Linked DNA regions of Homo sapiens: region 1 is linked to region 2. Evidence: fine-mapped expression QTL. A gene starts in region 2. The other region holds a variant in brackets. All regions are shown on one strand. Distances are from middle to middle. Region 1 has its middle 33 kb from the start of ZFP36L2. Region 2 holds the start of LINC01819 (long intergenic non-protein coding RNA 1819).

Region 1 (12,419 bases), 150 kb after region 2:
CCCAGGAAGGCCTGCCCTTCAAAGGCCAGCCAGGCCTGGCTCCCCTGCCCTCAGCACCTCTCCCCGCAGCCTCTCCCAGACTGGTGGCCCGGCCCTCAGCCTCTCCCCTCCCCAGCCTCAGCCACACCTAGGAGGTCCAGGGCCGGACCCTTTGGCCAGCCTGTCTGTAGGGATTCTGTCTCAGCCTGGACAGCAGCACCATCTGCTCACACAGTTTGTTCTCTTGGCTGAGTCTGGCACAAGAGGGAGGGAAGGCTGGGTTAGAGACACAAACAGCCTCAGAAATTGGGGACCCCTTGCAGCACTCTCTCCCCTCAGAACACCTCGACTGGCCTTTGGGCCCCTCCTTGAGCTCCAGGTTACCAGCCCTTCCCCAGGACCCCCACCTGTCTGGAACTTCGTGGTCACTGCTGGGCACCCCATCTCCCACCACACATGAATCTTCAGGCATGTGTGGTGGGAGATGCCTGGAAGTGTGCAATCTTCTGAGCACACTACCTGGAAGGTGTTGGAGATTCAGAGGTGACCAGACAGGGACACCTCCAGGGAGGAGGGGATAGTGGAGGTGTAAGTAGGTGAAAGTGACGGGGCGTGATGTGAGGTGGAAGGAGCCGTGGTGGGGGTGGGCCACAGAGGGCCAGGAAGGACTTTCTGGAAGCAACAGCGCCTACAGTTAGAATGTGACCAGCTTAACTGGGCCCATTTGCCAACCCTGATGTTAACAACAGGACCACATCCAGCTTTACTAACAGACTTTGTCCACACCACCAACTCTGGGCTCCTGGGAGGGAGGTGGGGTAGACGGCCCATCCAGTCTAGAATAGCCACTCTGGGGGCATCTAATTCTTTTTTTCCTTGAGACAGGGTCTCGCTCTGTCACCCACGCTGAAGCGCAGTGCTGCAAACACGGCTCATTGCAGCCTCCACTTCCTGGGCTCAAGCCATTCTTCTTCCTCAGCCTCCTGAGTAGCTAGGACTACAGGCACGCACCACACCTGGCTAATTTTTGTTTTTTTGTGTGTAGTGACAGGGTTTCACCATGTTGCCCAGGCTGGTCTCCAACTCCCGGGCTCAAGTGATCCACCCAAAGTATCGGGATTGCAGGTGTTAGCCACTGCGCCCAGCTGGCATCTGATTCATACATTTCCCCAGAGCCCACCTTCCCTCTCAGATATTATACATTCTTTTGTCTGAACCTTAGGAGCTGCTTTGGATGCAACTTGCCTGTCTCATCCCCTCAGGCCCATCACCCAAACAAAACTCAGAGCCTTCTCCCCTGGGGTGCTCTGTTTCCTGCATGAATCTTGCTCTCATCTCCCCGTCCGTGCCCATCCTAGATGGGGTGCCAGGGCCAAGGGTCTTTAGGATTTTCACCTCCTGTGTCAGCATCAAGGTAAGGAAAGCCCCCCCACCTTTTTTTTTTTTTTTTTGAGATGGAGTCTTGCTCTCGTTGCCCAGGCTGGAGTGCAATGGCATGATCTTGGCTCACTGTAACCTCCCGCCTCCCAGGTTCAAGCAATTCTCCGGCCTCAGCCTCCCGAGTAGCTGGGATTGCAGGCAGGCACCACCACACCTGGACAATTTTTGTATTTTTAGTAGAGACAGGGTTTCGCCATGTTGACCAGGTTGGTTGACCTTGAGCTCCTGACCTTGTGATCCGCCCACCTTGGCCTCCCAAAGTGCTGGGATTACAGGCCTGAGCCACTGCGCCGATCCAAGGCCATGATTTTTTACAGTGTAAGTGCTGGAGGAAAGCAAGCCCAAGGCAGGGGGCAAGGGGGCGTAGGCTGGAAGAACAGGCTGCAGAGGGACTCCCTTCTGAATGCCCTGGGGCGAGGTGTCCCCAGGTATCCCTCTGCCCTCCTGACAGCTTTCCTGTCCAGTCCCAGCAGCCTATTCTGAACCTGTCATCAAGCACTGAGCCCCCAGCCGCGGTGCCTCCCTCACGTGAGGCTCCTGTCTCCTGACGGCCTTCTGCCTGGGTTTCTCCCTCCAACAGGGCCTGCTCTTTGCTGCCAAGCTCAGCCTGAGCGATGCTGGGGCTCCCCTCACAAGCCTCCAAGCGTTCCCCCCTCCATGGCAGCTGGACATTGCAAACCCTCCCTGACCACTCCCCACCCCAATCATCACCCTCACTTCCATCCTCCAGGAAGGGCTGTGGCCTCACAAGCTCCTGGTGACCCCAGCCATGCTGTGTTCCTTCCTGCCCACACTCGCCCTGGCCCCTCTTCAGGGAAGTGGTACCTTCCCTTCCTCTGGATCTCTGTGGACTCTGCTGGTCCTTCAAGGGCCTGCTTATACGTCTCCTCCTCCAGGAAGCTTCCCTGAACATGCCAGTCAAGAACACATTCTCGGCCGTGCGGTGGTTCACACCTATAATCACAACGCTTTGGGAGGCTGAGGTGGGTGGATCACCTGAGGTCAGGAGTTCGAGACCAGCCTGGCCAACATGGTGAAACCCTGCCTCTACTAAAAATACAAAAATTAGCTGGACGTGGTGGTGGGCGCCTGTAATCCCAGCTACTCAGGAGGCTGGGGCAGGAGAATCACTTGAACCTGGGAGGTGGAGGTTGCAGTGAGCCGATACCTTGCCATTGCACTCCAGCCTGGTCAACAGAGAGAGACTCTGTCTCAAAAAAAAAAAAAAAAGTAGGCAGGTGTGGTGGCATGCACCTGTAGTCCCAGCTACTTGGGAGGCTGAGGCAAGAGAATCGCTGGAACCCAGGAGGTGGAGGTTGCAGTGAACCGAGATCGAGCCGCTGCACTCCACCCTGGGCGACAGGGCAAGACTCTATCTCAAAAAAAAAAAAAAAAAAAATTAAAAAACAAACAAAAAACCACATTATCTTTCAAATGGCTGTAGAACTTACTATGTGCTAGGCACCGCACTGAGCCCTGGGTCTCATCTAACCCCCACAGCAACCAGAAGCAGCAAATGTACTCTACTATCACCTCTTTGTTGTAGATAAGAAACAAAGGCAGCCAGGCGTGGTGGCTCACGCCTGTGGGAGCACTTTGGGAGGCCGAGGCGGGTGCATCACTTGAGGTCAGGAGTTCGAGACCAGCCTGGTCAACATAGTGAAACCCTGTCTGTACTAAAAATACAAAAATTAGCCAGGCTTGGAGGCATGTGCCTGTAATACCAGCTACTGGGGAGGCTGAGGCAGGAGAATCGTTTGAACCTGGGAGGTGGAGGTTGCAGTGAGCTGAGATCACGCCACTGCACTCCAGCCTGGGTGCAAGACTCTGTCTCAAGAAAAAAACAAAAAACAAACAAACAAACAAACAAAAAACCAAAAACTGAATGGCTGGCCTCAGCAAACCATTCTGAATTGCTCAGGACTGAAGGGTTTCCCAGGACAGGCTTTCCACTCTGAAACTGGGAAAGCCCCAGGCAACCCAGGGCAAGTCGGTCACCCTTCTGTTACCCGAGAGGCTGGCCTCTGCCTCCATCAGTTCCCTGAAACAGTGTCCAAAGGCCACCATCAACCTTCAGAGGCCTCTCCCTTCTCCTGCCCATGGGGTGGTGTAAGGCTGGGCAGTACCCAACTGCCCTTCAGGGATGCAGTGGGGCTGGATGAGGGGCAGGGCAGTGCCAGCCTGGAGCAATGCCACCCTCCAGCCCAGCCTCACTGGTCGCACCACCTCTCCCTAAGCTGGCTGCTGGGCTTGGGCCCTTTATCATCCCCTCACACTATCAGGCCGCTGAAGGAGTATCTCCTCCGCGCCCACCCCAGCTTCTGCCCTGACCCAGATAAGCTGAGGGGCCAGCCCAGGAGGAGAGAGGCAAAGCTGTAGCCTGGCTCTTCCCCAGCCCTGAACCTCCCTGCCTGGCCCTTGGGTGGAAAGCAGCAGAGACTCCTCTTGGGACTTCTACATCCCAAGATCAGACCGCCTCTCCAACCCCATGGGCAAGGACAGTGGGCAGGAATTCCTGTGCCCACTTGGCAGATGAAAAAATGGAGGCTGGGGGCCGGGCACCGTGGCTCACGCCTGTAATCCCAGCAGGTTGGGAGGCTGAGACGGGCAGATCATGAGGTCAGGAGATCGAGACCATCCTGGCTAACACGGTGAAACCCCATTTCTACTAAAAATACAAAAAAAAAAAAAAAAAATTAGCTGGGCGTGGTGGTGGGCGCCTGTAGTCCCAGCTACTCAGGAGGCTGAGGCAGGAGAATGCTGTGAACCTGGGAGGCAGAGCTTGCGGTGAGCGGAGATCGCGCCACTGCACTCCAGCCTGGGCGACAAAGCAAGACTGTCTCAAAAAAAAAAAAAAAAAAAGAAAAGAAAAAAAAGAAAAAATGGAGGCTGGGTAAGTGACCTGCCCAAGGTCACTGGGCCAGACCCATAGGAAGTCGGGGCTGGACGGGGCCTCAGCATGTCCCAGGGCTCTCTGATGGGGCTTTGTGGAGGATGTTTTCTGAATGAGTCCAGCTGGAGAGGCCAGCCTGCAGATGAGGCCTGTGCACTGCCCCTTCCACAGTCTCCGGCCAGCCTCCCAGCACCGCCTGAGCCCAGAGCCCTCGTGCCTCCTTCCTGCAGGGCTCTTGTCTCCCGACAGCCTTCTGCCTGGGTTTCTTCCTCCAACAGGGCCTGCTCTTTGCTGCCAAGCTCAGCCTGAGCAATCCTGGGGCTCCCCTCACAAGCCTCCAAGCGTTCCCCTCTCCAGGACAGCTGGACATTGCAAACCCTCCCTGACCACTCCCCACCCTGATCATCACCCTCACTTCCGTCCTCCAAGCAGGGGCTGTGGCCTCACAGGCTCCTGGTGACCCCAACTATGCCACGTTCTTTCCTGCCCACACTCGCCCTGGCCCCTCCGCAGGGAAGTGGTACCTTCCCTCCCTCTGGATCTCTGGGGATCCTGCTGGTCCTTCAGGGGCCTGCTTATATGTCTCCTCCTCCAGGAAGCTTCCCTAAAGATGGCAGTCAAAAACACATTCTCCTTCAAATGGCTGTAGCACTTACTATATGCCAGGCACTGTGCTGAGCCCTGGGTCTCATCTAACCCTCACAGCAACCACAAGCAGCAAATTCACTCCACTATTATCACCTCCAGGTTCTAGATTAAAAAACAGAGGCACAGAGAGGTCGGGTAACAGACCCAAGGTCACACAGCCAGAAACAGATCAAGGCAGGATTCAGGCTCTGGCAGTTTGGATCCATGGCATCCACTGGATTAGCAACTCCTTGGGGCAGGGACCATGGGTCAGGACTGGCTTCCTGTAGGAGAAGTCTTAGTATTTGCTTAGAAAGCTCAGAGCTGGACCCCTCCCCCAGACCTCCAGTCCTCAGAGTCCCCTGTAGGAGGCAGCACGGGGAAGGACAGAATTTTGTTTTTATTACCACTCAGCCCAGTTTCTCAAAAGTCACTGCCTGGGCTGAGCAAGGTGGCTCACCCCTGTAATCCCAGCACTTTTGGAGGCCAAGGCAGGCGGCTCACAAGGTCAGGAGTTCAAGACCAGCCTGGCCAATATGGTGAAACCCCATCTCTACTGAAAATACAAAAATTAGCTGGACATGGTGGCATGCATCTGTAGTCTCAGCTACTCCTACTTGGGAGTCTAAGGCAGGAGAATCGCTTGAACCTGAGAGGCAGAGGTTGCAGTAAGCTGAGATTGAGCCACTGCACTCCAGCCTGGGCAACAGAGTGAGACTCTGTCTCACAAAAAAAAAAGAAAAGAAAAAAAAAGTCACTGCTTGGCTTCTTTTTGGTTCTGGCAGGCTGGGCCCAGCCCAAGTGTGGCATGTGAGTGAACCACCCAGAGGAGGGCTGGGGGCTTGGCTCCTGGGGGCTCCAGTAGCTCCCTGCGACCTATCTCTGCCCCTCAAATCCTTCCATTCTAAAGGCCAGCTCCATGCCCACCTCCTCCAAGAAGCGCCAGCTGCTGCCCCCAGGCCAGCCTCCACCTGCTCCCACAGGCTGGGGAGTGGTCAGGGAGGGTTTGCAATGTCCAGCTGCCCTGTCTCCTGTCCCAGGCAGCGATGTGTCCAGGGCTCCATACCAGCTCCAAGCTCTCTGCCTACAGCTCCCTCACATCC[ACACT/A]CACTGGGTCCCAGCTGGAGACCTGGTGGCTTTGAGAGGATACCGTGGCTTCTTGATGTACCTGAAGACTTTGGAACGCCAGAAGTGTTCAGTCCTGTGATGGGTGTCAGCCAGGCCCAGAAAGCACACAAACTGGGGGACACATATGCTAAGTTATCCAGAAAGCCTCAGGGCTGGGGCTGGAAGAGGAGGGCCTTGCCATCCCAAGGTGCTGGTGTGTCCACACGCCCCTGGGGTGACCGTGTGCATCTGTGTGTGTGTGTTTGTGGGTGGGTGGCTGACTACTCTGAGTTTGTGGGTGATTCATGTGTACCCTCGCGACAGGCTGTGTTCAGATAGTCTGCTTATGTGCTTGAATTCAAGGACACAAACATCCCTAGGTGCAAGCTTGCACGCACAGTCCTCCCTACACCTCCACACGCAACTCCTAATCATCCCTCAGGATCCTCTCCCCGCCCTGCTTCAGCCTTAAGGCCTGCTCTGACCCTCCAGCCCATCCCACTGACCTGCTGACCTTCATCCCAGACACTGCTGGGTTCAGCCCTGGAGCCTGGTCACTCTTGCTCCCTGAGGGTGAGGTTGACTCCTTTTTAAATTACCCCTAAAGCCCCACTTAGGGAGACACAGCCTTATCAATCAACACTCCTTGAATGAATTAAAACAAACTCCAAGGAAAGGAACTGCATTTGGGTGGATGGAAACAAGAGCTCTCAAGCTGTTTTCTTTCCTCTTTACCCTTTGCTCTCTGTCTCTTCCCATCTGTACTTTCTCTAACTTGTTTGCTAACTCAATCGTCAGCTTAGAAAGTACTTCCTTGTATACCCTCCTCTCATTCAAATCTCATGACAATCCTCCAAGACACGAATAATTATCCTCATTGCACAGATGAGGAAACTGAGGTTCAGGGAGGCTACGTGAGTTGCCCAAGGTCACACAGCCTGGAAGGAGTGGGTAGGGACTAGAACCCTCATGCGTGAATGGACACCACCTCCCACCACTCCCCACCAGTAAGTAGAGGGTGGAGGGTAAAGGGCGATCCAGGGGCTCGGAGAGGATTGGCCTCTTCAAGCCCTCTCCATGGCCCAAGGTCACCGTGGGAGGGAGATGCACCTGGCCCCCAGGGCCAGGGGTTACCCCACTCGGCCAGCAATGGGAGAGGCCATGAGATCTGTGGACATTGTTCCTGGGCCTGTGGTTACTGATTTGACAACAGCCCTGTTCCTCCCCAGCCAGCCAGGGAGTTAATGATTAAGGAGGAGATTAAATATTAACCACCTGTGGGGCCACGGCGTAATGTCTCCATCTGCACCTGAGCCTACCTAAAAATCCCTCCCACCTGCCGTGGGCCAGCCCCACACAGGGCCTCTAAGCCCCTTGCTTAGGGATACCACTTCCCCATGCCCCCATCCTGCCCTGGCCCTGGCCCTGGCCCGTGTCCACCCCATCTCACTCTCTCATACCCACAGCACAGACCCAAGGACTCTTCCTGTAGCTTGGAAGCTGCAAGCTACACCACTGTAGGCACTCCTGGTGGGCCTTCTGGAGGAGAGGACCTGCCTGAACCCAGCTACTCCTGGGGCTTGGAGAGTCCGCAGGTTACATTCCTACCTGTGACCTCGTTTATCAGTGCTCTTATCGCTCTTATCTCCCAAGTCGTTCCTCCTAAAGACCCCTCTGAATCTACACATCCCAGGCCCCAACACCCTGGGCTACAGCAACTCCCCAACACGCCATTCTCTTCTTTCTTCTAGCAGTTAGAATCTGGGTGTGTTCTGCCTCCAGGAAGCCTCTCATATTAACCTGGGCTAAGGTCTCTGCGGGCCTCTGCTCCCCAGCTTCCCTTAGGCCGGGGTGATTCAGGCTGGCATTGGCTGCTGCACGGCTGCAGGAAACCAGCTGCATCTGTTGGAAGGTCCTTTGAAGTTTAAGTGCACAGCCTCCGAGCGCTGGGGGCGGGGACTGCTCTATCTCACCTAAGCCTAGGGCCTGCCCCTGGGTGAAGCCATGGTCACCCTCCCCACAGCAGGAACCACAGGCAGTATGACACAGGGTTCACCTGCGTCTTTTTCTATAAATATAGAAAAATGGAATTATTTATTCAAATAATAACTCTATTGATATGCTCTCATTCCTGTTTGTGGGGAAGCCCCAGATGACTGTGTGGGTAAGTTACTATGGTACGTAAGCCCCACCGTAGCCTGGGCCTGCACTGCTCTCTCTGCATGTCAGTGAACTGCATTGACACTGCAGGCCTAGTGACAGGCAATGTCATCCCCATTTTACAGATGGCGAAACTGAGGCTGGGTGAAATTAAAGGACTTGGCCACGCTCAAACAGACAGGAAATGGCAGAAGCTGGCCTGCCTGGTGCAAAAGCCATACAAAACTGAAAAGGACCTAACACCGTTCTTGCCACAGCTGTCTAGGCCCCAAGCTCAGCTTCTTTTCAGCCACAGTTCCCAACCATGTGTGGCTTGCTTGCTTTTCTTTCTTTCTTTCTTTCTTTCTTTCTTTCTTTCTTTCTTTCTTTCTTTCTTTCTTTCTTTCTTTCTTTCTTTCCTTCCTTCCTTCCTTCCTTCCTTCCTTCCTTCCTTCCTTCCTTCCTTCCTTCCTTCTTTCTTTCTTTCTTTCTTTCTTTCTCTCTTTCGAGATGGAGTCTCACTCTGTCACCCTCTGCCTCTCGGGTTCAAGCCATTCTCCTCCTGGGTTCAAGCCGTTCTCCTGCCTCAGCCTCCCGTGTAGCTGGGATTACAGGCACACACCACCACTCCTGGCTAATTTTTGTATTTTTAGTAGAGACGGGGTTTCACCATGTTGGCCAGACTGGTCTCAAACTCCTGACTTCACTCAAGTGATCCACCCTCCTCAGGCTTCCAAAGTGCTGGGATTACCGGTGTGAGGCACCGCGCCCGGCCTTTTTGTTTGTTTTTTTAAGACATGGTTTTGCTTTGTCACCCAGGCTGGAGTGCAGTGGTGCGATCATAACTCACTGCAGCCTTGACCTCCTGGGCTCAAGTGGTCTTCCTGCCTCAGCCTCCGAAATAGCTGGGACCACAGGTGTGCACCACCATGCCTGACTAATTTAAAAAAATTTTTTTAAATCTCAGCACTTTGGGAGGCCGAGGTGGGTGGATCACGAGGTCAGGAGATCGAGACCATCCTGGCTAATGTGGTGAAACCCTGTCTCTACTAAAAATACAAAAAATTAGCGGGGCGTGGTGGCGGGCGCCTGTAGTCCCAGCTACTCTGGAGGCTGAGGCAGGAGAATGGCGTGAACCCAGGAGGCGGTGCTTGCAGTGAGCCGAGATCACACCACTGCACTCCAGCCTGGGCAATAGAGCCAGACTCCATCTCAAAAAAAAAAAAAAAAATTATTTTTGTAGACTTGGGGATCTCATTATATTGCCCAGGCTGGTCTCAAACTCTTGGGTTCAAGCGATCCTCCCTCCTCAGCCTCCCAAAGTGCTGGGATTACAGGCGTGTGCCACTGCGCCTGGCCCCTTTCTCCTTTCAACTTTCTCTCACCTGTATTGATACCTGAACACTTAACAACCGCTTATGGCCTCCATTATGTGGGAGAGATGACTTTAGCTCTTCCAAGTAAGGGTGCCCCTGATCTCCTCAGAACCGAGGATATGACCCAAGGAGACTCCACGTGGAGACCCACTGGCTCTAGATGGGGATTTCTCTCTCCCTCCTAAAATGGGGCTCATTCCTTTAAGATGTTTTACTAAGTTTTTTGCAGAGACGTCTAGAAGGACCTGCCATTTTCCTTCTTCCTGCATGTTACAAATCATCTTACCAGTGCAGGATGGTGTAGAATCAGCATTGCACTGCGGTTTCCTCACACCAGCGCTTGTGTCTACAGATGAGGAAAGAAAGGCCCCCGAAGGTCAAGAGCCTCGCTGGCCCAGTGGCTCCCACACGAGTTCCTCAGGGCAGCAGCAACACTAAGGAAGGGGATGGCCTCTGACTGGCACTGATGGGGCTTCCAGACCCATACCTCAGGGGCTCAGAGGTTTCCTCTGGGGCCCCAGCCCCTTGTCTTAGACTCAGAGCTGAACCCCCAGTACATCCTTGAGAACCTCAACCTGCTCCCCTTTGCCCCTCACCTCCTCCCTGGACCACTGCTCCCCACAGTCCAGCTCCCCCATCCTTGACAGTGAGCCCAGGGTTTGTCAGGGGATAGTGGGGAGTCCGGGAAACATATAATACGAGCTTCTCAGCCATAAGCAGTGTTCCCATATCCCAGCACAGCACACACACTTTGAGCCAGGTTTCCCGCCCAGCCTGCCACGCTGTCTTTTGCCCTGTGTTTCTGTCTGTCTCTCTTTCTCTCCCACACGCACTCTCACTCATTCACACAAACTCACAAATTTTGATGACTCAGGCAAAGCAGAGAGGAGGGAAGCAACACTTAAAGCCGAAATTGGCTTTAACTGGGGATGCTCACATTTCTATTTACATCTCTTTTGCATGTATTTGCATAGACTGTTTTTGGACCATTCTCCATGTCCCTAAGGGCACTGAGAAGTAACGGATTTGTGGTCCTCAGGGGGCCCCAAGGCCTCCGTGAGGCCTCCAGATGCGTTAGGTGGGCCCTGGAATGCAGGGAGAATAGGGAGGCGACAGGTCATCTGGTTACATTACAGGGGCAGGCTAGAGGAAATAGGGTAGCTGGGGCCTGGAGGAACCTTGTGGGCCTTGGCTGCCTTCTTTTTTTTTTTTTTTGAGATGAACTTTCACCGTTGTTGCCCAGGCTGGAGTGGAATGGCACCATCTCAGCTCACTGCAACCTCCGCCTCCTGGGTTCAAGTGATTATCCTGCTTCAGCCTCCCAAGTAGCTGGGATTACAGGCGCCCGCCATCATGCCCAGCTAATTTTTTGTATTTTTAGTAGAGATGGGGTTTCATTATGTTGGTCAGGCTGGTCTCGAACTCCTGACCTCAGGTGATCCACCCGCCTCAGCCTCCCAAAGTGCTGGGATTACAGGCGGGAGTCACCGCGTCCGGCCTTTGGCTATCTTCTTGTCACAGGGTCCCCCACTCAGTGCCCCTGAAGGCCAGGCTGGCAGTGGGGTAGGGGGTGGGGCAGGAATTTTCCAAAAGTCCAGATGCCTAGTGAGGCTCCGCTCCTGGGCCAAGTATGGAAGGCAGCAGAGAAGCAAGAGGATGGACCCCAAGTGAGAGGGACACAGGAAACCCTGAGGCAGGGCCAGAGGAGAAGAGCACCCAGGAAAGGAAAGTGCCGGCTCAGAGGTGCTGGGAGGGTGGGTCCTACTCCTTAGGTGAACACAGACACCAGAGGCCCAGCACCAGCTGCCCTCCTACCCTGCACATCAGCTCTCAACTTAATTCGCCGCACAACCTGAGACAAGATTCTAGGCAGCCAGGGCTCTGGCCCAGCTCTGCACCCTTTGCCGGGTGACCTTGGGCGGGTCTTGGTCCCTCTCTGGGCCTCAGTCTCCTCTTCAGGAAAGGGCAAGCAGATGAGTTTCGAAGGCCCTCCCAGGTCTAATGTCTCTGCTGCCCTGACCCAGCCTCCCTGGCCCACTTCCCTGTGGCTCAGGAATCTTCAGTGTCTACCTCTAGGATCAGGGTCAAGTTTGAGTGTTCAGGACCCTCTGCATCTGGTGCCATCCAGCCTCATCAGCCTCACTTCCCTTGTTTTCTGGGGGTCCAGCAGGGACCTTGGGTCCTTGCTCCAACCTCCTTTCCTTTCCCCACCAAGGGCCCTGATTCTGGAACACCTGCCCTCTCCTGCAGGGCTGGCTTCATGAACAGTGACCTATGCAGCCCCATGGTTGGTTTAATGCTCTGTTAATGTCATCCTGGAATTTAAAAATTTTGAGCAAGGGCAAGGGGCCCTGACTTTCTTTTTTTCTTTTCTTTTCCTTTTTTTTTTTTTTTTTTTTTGAGACAGAGTCTCGATCCCTTGCCCAGGCTGGAGTGCAGTGGCGCGGTATTGGCTCACTGCAACCTCAGCCTCCCGGGTTCAAGCAATTCTCGTGCCTCAGTCTCCCAAGTAGCTGGGACTATAGGTGTATGCCACCATGCCTGGCTAATTTTTGTATTTTTGGTAGAGATGGGTTTTCACCATGTTGGCCAAGCTGGTCTTGAACTCCTGACCTCAAGCGATCCGCCTGCCTTGGCCTCCCAAAGTGCTGGGATTACAGGTGTGAGCCACCACGGGGCCCTGACTTTCCATTTTAGACTGGACTCCACAAATTATGTATCAGCCCTGCCTTCTTCTCCTCCCATCAACCGTTCCTCAGCCCTACCTCCCCTCCAAACCCTCATGGACCAGGGAGAAGGTCTGGCGTGGGATGGCCAGCCCTACAGTCCAAGGAAAAGAAGCAGAGACCCTTTGACAT
Region 2 (12,419 bases):
GGACACAGGACTGTTGACGTGGGAGAGATGGGCGCAGCCTCTGGACCTGCGCCACGACGAGGAGGAAATGGTTTTCACTGAAAAACAAAGTTGAAAAACAGTTTACTGAAGGGAAGAGAAAGAGGAAAGGAAAAAAAAAAAAACCACCTCAAACTGTCTGATCATCAAAATCACCTGGGCAGCTTGTTAAAAATACAGATTCCAAAACTCATTCCAAGTCAATAAAATATTATTCTTGGTAGCTCTGGGCTTCTTTTCCTTGTGGTTAAAAAATGCAGGTTCCAACTCAGCCAGCTGGAAGACCCTTGGGCGAGTCGGTGTCTGGGTTGAGGGGAAGCAAGACCTATGGAGTCAACACAACAGATTATGTTTCTAGTTTTCTAGTTGGATTTGGGGGAGAAAGGAGGGAAGGAGACACAACAGGCTCAGGAAAAAACTCCTAAAAGCCACTTCCCTCCAGGCAGGACGGTCTTCCACTGGCTGAGCCTGTCCAATCCGTGTCTCCTTTCTCGGGCCAGTCTCCTGGTGAATCCTCACTCTCCCGTTTCCTCCTCTTCTCCCCTCCCACCATGGGGCCCTTGTCACCCGTGGAAGTCTGAGTGATGCCCCCACAGATGTTCATGTCTTTAGGCCCAGAATCTGTCCATGACACCTCGTATAGGGCTTTCACCTGTGATTAGATTAAGCCTCTTGAGACGGGGACATTATCCTGCGTGATCTGGGTGGACCTCATGGAATCACAAGGGTCCTTCTGAAAGGGATGTAGGAGTCAGGCAGAAGGTGACCTGATGGAGGAGCAGATTGGAGTGGTGCTCTTTGAAGATGGAGGAAGGAGCCACAAGCCGAGAAACTGAGCCAGAAAAGGCAAGAAAACAGATTCTTTTCTGGAGCCTCCAGAAGGAACCAGCCCGACTGACACCTTCACGTTAGCCCAGCGAGACTGATTTTGGGCTTCTGGCCTCCAGAACTGTAAGAGAATAATGTGTGTTGTTTAAGCCCCTCAGTTTGAAGTGGTTTGTTACCATGACAGCCGCAGGAATCAAATGCCCCCGACCTCTATCCTGTCCACTTTACCAGCCCGGCCCCTGCCAGGGTCTCCCGGGACCAAATGCTTGCCGGCCCTGGGCCCTCCTTAGAGCCTGTCTCTCTTGGCCTCCCATCAATATGTGATATTTTCTCCGTTGGTCGTTCTTAAATCTTGTGACAGCCCACTCCACTGGTGTTCCTCATGCCTTGATGCTCCTCCTTAGCCCCCTTCCAGCACTTTCCAGCCCCACCTCTTACCCCACCTTCAACATGGCCATGTGGCCCAGGGTCCTCTTCTGAACCCTCTTCTCACTCTCTGCTTTCTCTACTTCCCAGTGATAATCCCAGATCAAGGCCATGGGTCCACACCCTAATAACGATGGGTCCCTTATGCTCTTCTCAGCAAACAGGTATTAATATATTCCCTGCCTGTTGAAATCCAATTCACCTGTTCATCCCTCAATGCCCCACTCAAATGTCACCTCCTCCAGGAAGCCTCCCCTATCTGTCATGCCATATGCTTGTTAACAGTGTCCATCCGTCGACCCCATGGGATTGTGTGCCTAATTTATAAATTGAACTTAGAAGCTAGGATCTACAATATTTTGAGACATAGAGAGAAAAACTATGCTCACATAACTTTCATTGCAGCATATTGTTATAATTGATCTATTTTATTATTGTTGTTGTTCATCTCTTACTGTGCCGAATTTATAAAATCAACTTAGAAGCAGAGTCATGACCTAGTCAGCCCTGGACTCTCAGCACCCGGCACAGTGGAACCCAGCTCTGGGACATGCTCTCCCTCCTCACTGCCATAAACACCTGAGCAGGTGTTGGAGCTGTGGAAGCTGCCCTCTGCCATTCTGCTGCCTTCTGGCCTAGGCCAGGCTGTCACAGTGGGGTTCACTTCCCTTAAAGAATCATAAGAATAGATGTCAAGTTTCCATTCTGGCCACACTGGCCTCCTGACTCCTACTCCAACAGGCCATCCCCTGATGTCCCACCTGGGACATGAATCATTCCTCTCTCCAGCGTATCCATGCTGTGGCTGCCACCCACCTGCGTGTCCCTTAGGGGCCATCTGTCAAGGTATCATGGTGCTTGTGTTCAAGTAACCCTTGTTTTACCTTGTAATGGCCCCAAAGCACAAGAGTAGCAATGCTGGAAATTTGGATGTGCCAAAGAGAAGCCGTGAAGTGCTTCCTTTAAATTAAAAGGTGGAAGTTCTTGACTTAATAAGGAAAGAAAAAAAGTGTATATTGTGCCAAACAATGAGATACTATGCAGCCATTAAAAATTGTATTTTCAGGCTGGGCATTGTGGCTCACACCTGCAATCCCAGCAATTTGGGAGGTCAAGGTGGGCAGATCGCTGGAACTCAGGAGTTCAAGACCAGCATGGGCTACAGGGAGAAACCCCCGTCTCTACAGAAAACACAAAAATTAGCCATGCACGGTGGTGCACACCTGTGGTCCCAGCTACTTGTGGGGCTGAGGCTGGAGGATCACTTGACCCTGGGAGGTCGAGGTTGCAGTGAACCACGATTGCCCTGCTGCACGCCGGCCTGGGTGACAAAGTGAGAGACCCTGTCTCAAAAAATATACATAAATAAATCAAATAAAATTGTATTTTCAAAGACTATTTTAATGACCCAGGAAAATTCTTATGATATAATTTATATGGAAAAAAAAATCAAGATTTTAGATCTCAGATCTTAGCTCAGGTAGCTAGGATCTACAATATAACATTTTGAGACACATGGAGAAAGACCATACTCACATTACTTTTCTTGCAGCATATTGTTATAATTGATCTATTTTATTATTGTTGTTAATCTTTTACTGTGCCTAATTTATAAATTAAACTTTATCATAGGTATGTATGTATAGGAAAAAACATAGTGTATACAGGGTTCAATACTAACTACAATTTCAGACACCCACTGCGGGGCTTGGGCCATGTCCCCTGAAGATAAGAGGGGACTACGGTAACACAATTTATCAAAAACACATTGCTCCCAGACACCAAGAACTTTGCAGGGATTCACATCCTTTTACTTCATAATCCCACTTCTAGGACTTTATCCTAAAGAAATAATCAGAGGCTGGGCACGGTGGCTCACGCCTGTAATCCCAGCACTTTGGGAGGCTGAGGCGGGCAGATCACCTGAGGTCGGGAGTTCAAGACCACCCTGACCAACATGGAGAAACCCCGTCTCTACCAAAAATACAAAATTAGCTGGGTGTGGTGGCACATGCCTGTAATCCCAGCTACTCGAGAGGCTGAGGCAGGAGAATCACTTGAACCCAGGAGGCAGAGGTTGTGGTGAGCCGAGATCATGCCATTGCACTCCAGCCTGGGCAACAAGAGCGAAACTCCATCCCCCCCGCCCAAAAAAAAAGAGAGAAAGAAATAATCAGAGATGTATGCAAAGATGTATGTGTAAGAATGTTTATTAAATTATTATTTAAAATAATGAACAATTTTGAAACAGTTCACATGCCTAACACTAGGAAATTGGCTTAGTAACCACTGTACCGTACAATAGGATACTATGCAGCCATTTTACATCGTATTTTCAAAGAATATTTTAATGACCCAAGAAAATTCTTATGATGTAATTGATATGGAAAAAGATCAGGATTTTATATATACTATGTGTGTATGCACATGGTATTACCTCAGTTTCATTTAAATGTGTATGTGTATAGCAATAATGGTTATCTCCATTTAGTGTGATTATTATGGAGTATTTTCATTTTATTTCTTATACTTTTTCAGATTTTCCATATTTTTTACAATTAGCCTATATTTAGATTACAGTTTTTAATGCTATTAGTTTATTTTAATGGGGAAATAATTCATTGATTACTTGTCTGTTTTTCACTGAGGCAGGTGGAGTGGTGTGAAGGAAAGCTTGGGGCTGCCAAGCCAATGTATCTGCTCTTGGAGCCTGGGAGCTTCTTGGGTCCTGAGAGGCCTTTTATGTGTGTGAGGTGCCAGTTCTCTGAAATGAGTGCTGTGGCTTGGGGGTGCGCTGGAATATTTTTTATCAGGAGCCTGGACCAAGGGCTAGATCACTCTCCATATGTCATGGTGGGTCCTACCTGAAAGGGGAGGTCGTTTTCAAGATCAGGTACCTGAGGAAGAAGCGGGTCTTCAAAATAGAAGGTGAACCTGAAAAGAAGGTGATAAAAATTATGATGGGACAAAGGACTTGGTGGGGTCTCTGTCCCCTCATAAACCTCCACATAGGATGGACAGGAGTTGGGAGCCTCCAGAGGGTAACTGGTTAAGGTAGGACTAGGACACCCCTGCCTTGGGAAGCTGGATTGGGTTTACAGTTCTTCTGGGCACCATGTTTACGTCCTGTTGCCTTCCCTTCAGTGCCCTTATTAGTGCCATCTGGTCTGATCTTCCCAGGTTTCTTAGCTGTGCTTGTTAAAAGAAGCGAAAGACTGGGTTTCGGCCAGGTGTGGTGGCTCGCGCCTGTAATCCCAGCACTTTGGGAAGCCAAGATGGGCAGGTCACTTGAAGCCAGGAGTTCAAGACCAGCCTGGCCAACCCAGTAAAAATACAAAAAATTAGCCTGGTGTCGTGGCACATACCTGTAATCCCAGCTACTCAGGAGGCTGAAGCATAAGAATTGTTTGAACCTGGGAGGTGGAGATTGCAGTGAGCCGAGATCACGCCACTGTACTCCAGCCTGGGTGACAGAGTGAGACTCGGTCTCAAACAACCACCAAGGCTGGGTTTCTAGCTATGTTTGGCCCACAGAATTAAAAAAGTGGTGGCATCCCTGGGGCCCAGCCAGAAAGAAGCCGTGGGAATGAAGAAAAGTGACCCAAAGAGGAGAGTGCACAGAGGGAGGTGGAGTGAGGGCTGACTGAGCCAGCTGTCTCTCCTACCCAGGAATTCTTCCTGAGCTAAATCTCGGAGATTCTGGTTTGTAAAGTAATAGCTCTCCTTATATTTGTCTATTGTGTAAGTGCATGATTATGCTAAAAAAATTAAAAATTCAAATAAGGAAAACCAAAATAAAAACAAAGAAAAAGAAGCAATCTAAAATTACCCCTTAGCTCACCACTCGTCAATGTTTTATTGTATATCCTTCCAACGTTTTTCATAAATCAATGCTTTATTATTTATTTATTTATTTTTTTGAGACGGAGTTTCACTATTGCCCAGGCTGGAGTGCAATGGTGCAATCTCGGCTCACTGCAACCTCCGCCTCCCGGGTTCAAGCAACTATCCTGCCTTAGCCTCCTGAGTAGCTGGGATTACAGGCATGTGCCACCACGCCTGGCTAATTTTGTATTTTTCAGTAGAGATGAGGTTTCTCCATATTGGTCAGGCTGGTCTCGAATTCCCTACCTCAGGTGATCTGCCTGCCTCGGCCTCCGAAAGTACTGGGATTACAGGCATGAGCCACTGCGCCCAGCCCAATCAATGATTTAAAAATCAGATTATTTTATATACATCTCAGCTTTGTATTATTCTGTTCGTTATGCTATCTGCTTATTTCTATGTCATTAGATGCTCTTCTACATCATTTTTAAAGGCTCAATTGTGTTTTGTTTTCTGGATGTTTCACAATGTATTTAACCCATGCCCCATTTTTGGACATTTAGGTTGCTTCCGGTTTTTCAGGCTTAGAAGTCACAGTGAAGGACAACTTTGTGGCTAAATCTTTGAATGACCACCTATGTATATTCCCTGGAATAAGTCCCAGAAATAGACTCCCTGAAAGAAAGGACACTAGGGTTCGTTTCCATCCCTGGGCAGATCCCGAGGAAGGCTGGGTTGTTCTGGAGGTCTTGGCGCTGGGCCCTGCACTCCAAGCTTCAGGGCCTCCCAGACCCTTAGTGCACGTTCCACTACACTAAATCACCCCGCCCCTCCTCTCCCCACTCTGCCCCAGGCTTTGGACTCACCCAGGAGAATGAATTACACCTCCCAGCCGGACGTGAGGCCATTTGTCTTGTGCTCTGGAATCCTGATTAGATAAAATCTGAACAGAGCACATTTACTTATTTAGTGTATTTCTGGGTGGGTGGGTCCTAGCCCTTGGGGATCACCTTCTCCAGATCAGGGTGAAGAGTTTACAGAAGGGAGGAGCAGGTCACATATCCAGAGCAACCAGCTCAGGCATTCACCCTGCGGGGTCACAGGAACCCCACCGTCCCCAGCTCAGGCCCACTCCACTCCAGCTCCAATCTCCCCAGTCCTGCCTCCCCGCCTCCAGCTCAGGAAGCTTTAGGCGTTGGTTGCTCATCATATGGCTGAGGCTGGCAGAAAGAAGGACTAGGTGCCCAGTGATGTGGCCACATCGCACCTCTGGCGGGAAGTGGACTCTCTCCGACCCCCCTTGGGGGCTCTGGTGGCCTCTGCGGGACCTCGGGTTGTCTGAGCACACGCACCCTCGCCCTCTCTGGGACCTGATGCCTCGATTTAGGCTCAGACCCTGTAAATGCCCCTTGAGAGCCCTCAAGGATCCAGGGTTCTCTTGTCCTCAAAGAAGCAGAACATACCTGCTCACCAGCCTGCAGCTTGTCCTGTGTGTCCCGTCTCCTCAAGTACGGAGAGGCCAGGGCTTCCTGAATCTCATCAGATCCGAATCTCCCCAGATCTCATCAGGGCCTCTTCCCAGGAGACACCAACTCTCAAGGTCTGGAGACACACCTGGAACCTGTATTTTCCCAAATGGTCCTCCTGGCTCTTCCCACAGAACTGTCTTCTTGTCCCTGGTCTCCACTGATGGGGAACAAGGCATGTGACCCCCTGGGTCGGGCAGGCCCAAGGCAGGCGAGGCAGTGAGAAGCAGGCGAGGGGATAGGGCTGCTTGCTCAGGTAACTTGGGTTCAGGAGGTTTGGCAGCCGAGCTGCCTCTCCTGGCAGCGGGGCTTGGCCAAGGGCAATGTGCAGCCACACAAAGCCATCCTCACAAAGCCACCCTCACAGCCTCTCTGGCCGAGAGTCCCTGGGCGCTCACTTGCCGGGATGCACAGGCACGCCTCTGGCCAGGCCGGGCTGCGGGGGTTTGTGGCCTGGAGAATCAAAGAGCCGCCCTCAGCTCGGAGAACACTTCCTCTAGAAGGCTCTGGTAACAGCACACCGGGTCTGAGGAGAAAGAGCCTCTGTGGGCCACGGTGGGTCTTTGCCCACAGAGGCTCACACACCACCCCTCCTGTTCCAACACCACCCCCTGCCCGGCCCCAGTTCTCCTACCAGCCCAGGGGACTCAGGTGGGCCAGACCTTTTCACACTGCCCCTCCCACACACACCACAGCAAGAGGGTGAGCCTCCCTCTTTCTCTGCCGGGGTCTCTGGGGCCTCCCACGACGGGGGTGGGTGGTGCCATAAGCCCTGGGTGCCTGTGGGCGGTGGTCCCACGGATGCCCTGCTCAGTTCCAGACATAGTTGTTATTTGGACTTTTCACATCAAAGTAATTAATTAAATATGCAATAGAATACATTCTCTTCCTCAGTCAGTGGCAACCCCATCCCTTCATTCACTGAGGCCGAAACCTTGGATAGCCGTCCTGGAGTTTTTCAGACCCATGTCCAAACCACTGGAGCATCTTGTCAGCAGGATTCCAACTTCTTCCAGAGCCCACCCGCCTCTCACCACCTCTCTGTCATTTCCCACCTGGATGATTACAACAGTCCCTGTCGAGGCCCTGGCCCCACCACGCCACCAGTGGGGAGAATGCTTCCTCTAGAAGGCTCTGGTGGATTTGGGTGATGAGGGGGAGAGGGGTAGTCCCGGGCCAAGCCACACCAGTGACCCCACGTGTGTTCAGAACCCTCCTGTCTACATTTGATTTCATCTTGGCTACTCTTGTCAAGACATGCAGTTTGTTAGTCTTGAGCAAGTAAGAGTCCTTATTTGTATGCCCTCACATGTTATCACAAATCCCCCAGATTCTTTTTCAGATCTCATGCCCTAATTTGGGGTTTATGAAATCTACCATGCTGATAGGGATTCCTGTCTGTCATGGGGACTTTGAGCCATGACTCAGAACAAGACACTTATCAATCTGGGGCCTCTCCGAAGATGCTGAGACCAGGGCCAGTCTCAGCTGCAACGCCCTGCTTGGAAGCCACTATGGGATGATTCTGCAACAGATATCATGATGCAACAGATGCCCATGAATGACATGGGAAAGCTGGGCCCCATCGCCCAGGGGGACACTCCTGCTGTGCTCTGTCAGCAGGAGGGAGCCTCCTAGGAACTTCATCAGGACCCATTCTTTCTCTTTTTCTTTTCTTTTTTTTTTTTTTTTTTTGTGAGACGGAGTCTCACTCTGTCACCCAGGCTGGAGTGCAGTGGCTCAATCTTGGCTTACTGCAACGTCCGCCTCCTGGGTTCAAGCGATTCTTTTGACTCAGCCTCCTGAGTAGCTGGGATTACAGGCATGCACTGCCATGCCTGGCTAATTTTTGTATTTTTAGTAGAGACAAGGTTTCACCATGTCGGCCAGGCTGGTCTCAAACTCCTGACTTCAAGTTGTCCTCCCACCTTGGCCTCCCAAAGTGCTGGGATTACAGGCGTGAACCACTGCGCTTGGCCAGGACCCATCTTTGTGTGGGATCCCTGGCTCAGTGCTAGGACAGAAACAGGTTTTCCTTGGACTCTGTGGTGTGTGCTTGAGTGTATGTGGGTGAGTGTGTGTGTGATAACGCACCCTGCCCTGCCTTTCCCTCCCCACTCCTCCAACCTGGAGGTGACAGTCACAGGGCCCAGCCCCTCCCTGCCACCTTCCTGCCCCAGCCCCATCTCCATTCAGGGGCAAGTCCTGCTGTGGTGCTTAGAGTGCAGCTCTTTCAGGCTTTCCTTTCGCTTAGCCTTGATTTCCAGGCCACCATGATCAGACTGGGCTCCCAGGCAGCATCGGAGCATCCCCAAATCCAGGGCTGGGAGGAGCCAGGCCATCTTGTCCAAGTAAGGACTTGAAGTTCAGAGAGGAGAAGGCACCAAGCTTGTGTCACCCGCAGGTCCATGCAGAAGGGAGATTAGAACCCAGATCTGCTTTTCAGCCCAGGCCAGGCCTGCTACAAAAGGGCGGGAGGGGGCACCCAGGCTGAGGTGCTGGAATTAGCAGTTCTCTTTACCCTCAAATTAGCCCTGAGGCTGGCCCAAGCCCCTCCCTGCCAGCGTGCCCCTCTGTCTTCAGGAGCCCCCAGTGCCTGCCAGGGGCTTCTCCCCTTTTGCCAGCTTGCATCCATCCCCCACGGTTCCGTCTCTTGGCTGCTGCTTTTACAGGCTCCAAGCAGTGGGGAGGCTGATGGGGAGAGGGGGTCTGTGTTGGACTCAGCCAGACTTACTTCCAGCCAGTCCTCTTGCCCTCCCCTCCACAGACTGCCTAGAGACCAGGGAGCTCTCCCAACCCCACCCCTCGCCCCACTGCCACAGCTCTGACTCAGCCCATAAATTACCTAGGAATGGTCCGCTGACTCAGCCAGGAAGCCCAGAGCCCCCTTCCCCACCCTCAGGCCTCAACCCCACAGCTGGCTTTCATTCCAGAGTACTTGGCCCCCTCCCCTCAGGAAATTCCTGGAAAATATCAGGCTTCTTGGAGGGGAGATCTAACCACAGCCCCGGCAGGGAGCAAAGCCGCTGCAGCCTCATCCATCATTCTGCCCCTGCCCCTCCTCCAGCAGCTTGTGTGTTGCATGGGACTGAGCATGGAAGTGTCAGACCCCATAAAGTGATGGGTGCATGGCTCTGAGGGGAACTCCGGGGAGGGAGGAGAGAGGTGAGGCTGGCATGGGGTAGGGCAGTCAGGGCAGGCTGCTGGGAGGTGGAGGACTTTGTTTTGGGCCAGAAACGATGATAAAAACTGCTAAGTGCAGAAATGGAAAGCGTGCTTCAGGCCCAGGGGATGGCATAAGAAAAGGCTAGAGGTAGAAACCAACCGGTGTGTAGGGGGATGGGGAGGAAATTTGAGAATAAGCAGGGCTAGGCCAGTCGCGGTGGCTCATGCTTGTAATCCCAGCACTTTGGGAGGCCGAGGCAGGTGGATCACCTGAGGTCAGGAGTTCGAGACCAGCCTGGCCTACATGGCAAAACCCTGTCTCTTCTAAAAATACAAAAATTAGCCGGGCGTGGTGGCACACGCTTGTAATCCCAGCTGCTTGGGAGGCTGAGGCAGGAGAATTGCTTGAACCGGGGAAGCGGAGGTTGCAGTGAGCCGAGATTGTGCCACTGCACTCCAGCCTGGGTGACACAGCAAGACTCTGTCTAAAAACAAAACAAAACAAACAAACAAACAAAAAACAAAAACAGAATAAGGTCTAGAGGAGTGGCCGGACCGGAGAACCTGGGCTGATCAGGCCAGAGGGCCGGGGCCGGGGCCAGGCTGTGGAATTTGCAGGAAGTCTCCAAAGCAAAGGCCCAAGAGACTCTGGGAGACCTGGGAGCAAAGGAGAGCGTTTGGGGGCGGGGAGATGAATCTTGGACTAAAAGAACCTTGGCCAAGGAACACTGGTCCCTGCAACATCCTTGGACCACCTTGGGATCCCAGTGCCTGCTTCGACCTGAGGGGTGGGGCGGGGCATCTGATCATCACACTCCAGTCGGGGCAGAGGCAGGGCTCCGACTCTCAAGCAGCTCAGACTGAGGGACATGGCTGTGGCCTCAAAGAGCCCCCATTCTGAGGTGGGAACACAGCCCCTTCCTCAGGGAGCCCCCAGTTAAAGGGAGACACAGAACTCCCAGGCCCTTCCTGCCCCCCAGGCCTTAGTGTCCCCTCAAATCCGTTCCTCAGAAACCCCATTGGCTTTTGAGGGAAAGCCAAGTCCAATTCTCTGATAAAACTTTTCTTTTTTGGCTGCTTCCCCTCAGACAATACAAACTTATAAATGTACAAAAATTCCTGGCCAACCTCCCCCAGGAAGGATGGCTGGGTGATGGGCTGTGGCCTCAGTAATGGAGTCACCGAGAAGGGAAGCTGGCTGAGCAAAGGTACGGCCAGGGTAGGGGGGCTGTCCCTCCTGCCATCCATGGCAGAGGGGTGGACACCAAGCCAGGGTACTGTGGGGAAAGGTCTGCTGCGTCTCCAGCGTTTACCTACCCTTCCTGGGAACAGCAATTCTGCCATGGCCTGGCAGGAGTCAGGGAGGGGTGTGATGGATTCAGAGAGAAAGGTAGGGGCGCAGCCAGTCCGACGAAATGAAAGCAGAGAAAGAGGTGGAGAGGAGGAGGACACGGAGCAGAAACTCCTTGAAAGCAAGGTTTCCTCGTGGATTCTAGGCCCAGAAGCCAGGGAAGCTTCTTCATAAATGGGCGTCCCCAGGAAGGCCTCCTCATTCCCAGACTGGAGCTTTTGAGGCTCTAGTGTCTGTCAAAGCCCTCAAAACATTATATCGACATTCCCAGGTTACATGTGGGACCCCCCCTGACCTCATCCTGAGCCCCAGAGACAGAGCTGCCTTGGTCACTGGTGCATCCCAGCACCTGGTGTGTGTTGGGGGGTGGGGGGTCCTTCCCCCCCGCTGTCTGTCCCAGTGCAAAAAAGAAAGAGGGAAAGACTGGGCCACCGGAGGCCAGACAGGCCCAGCACGGATGTGGCCTCTGGGAAATGGCCCAGGGGCTTGCCCTCCTTCCCAGCTGGCTCTGGGAGCCTGAGCAGGGGCTGGCCCGCCCTCCCCTTTGTGACAGGGCAGGAGGGGGTTAGCCAGGTTACCTCTGTGGGCCCCAGCCCCTGAGGGGTGGTGGGTCTCTCAGCCAGGCTGGTCTGGGGAGCGGGGAGGGCATCCTGCCTCATTGTCACTGGCCCAGCGCATTTCCAGAAATTCTTCCCATCGGTAAGAAGAGGAAAGAGAGGCCAGGGCAGCCTCACAGGCCAAGTGGGAACCAGGTTTCCCGGAGCTCTCACGGCCCAGCCCGAGCTTGGGGCCTCCTGTCTGGGCCAAAGGGTCAGCTCAGCCCTGGGACGGGGATATGTCAGGAATAACTGGCCGGTGGACCCAGGACTCACCTTATCCATGCTGGGCCAGGCCGTGTTTGTGTTTGCAGGACAGAGACAGGAGGAAAGAGGCCTGGAAATGCCTGGGCTTCCCACAGGACTTATTTAACTCTAGCGTCAGGGAAGACTAAAGCTTATATTCATTCCACAGTATATACTGCCTCCCCTCTACCCTCATTTTAGTAGGTAGGTATAGTGTGAATGTGTGCAGGACATGTGTGCATCGTGTGTGTGCACGTAACCCGTGACATGTGTATTTTGGGCTAGTATAGATAGGTCTTGAGGGAAAGACAGAGGGCAATGTTTTTTCTTTCTCTTTTTTTTTGAGACAGGGTTTTGTTCTGTCACCCAGGCTGGAATGCAGTGGTAGGATCATGGCTCACTGTAGCCTCCAACTCTTGGGCTCAGGTGATCCTCTTG

Evidence for each region.
Region 1: its variant is fine-mapped to the expression of LINC01819 in whole blood (TOPMed, PIP 0.97).

What each region holds. Positions count from the first base shown.
Region 1 is chr2:43,187,057-43,199,475 of GRCh38, forward strand. No RefSeq gene overlaps it. Among named protein-coding and RNA genes, the nearest start is that of ZFP36L2, 33 kb to the right of the region's middle. RefSeq lists enhancers at 1-487, 488-1,221, 6,954-7,873, a silencer at 237-407 and a cis regulatory region at 3,399-3,997. The variant ACACT/A (reference allele first, on the strand shown) is at 6,043.
Region 2 is chr2:43,032,560-43,044,978 of GRCh38, forward strand. LINC01819 (long intergenic non-protein coding RNA 1819) reads right to left here and starts at 6,984. Exons shown (of 6, transcript NR_110585.1): 1 at 6,561-6,984; 2 at 4,137-4,206; 3 at 2,496-2,593. RefSeq lists enhancers at 8,444-9,386, 9,387-10,328, 9,391-9,685, 10,329-11,270.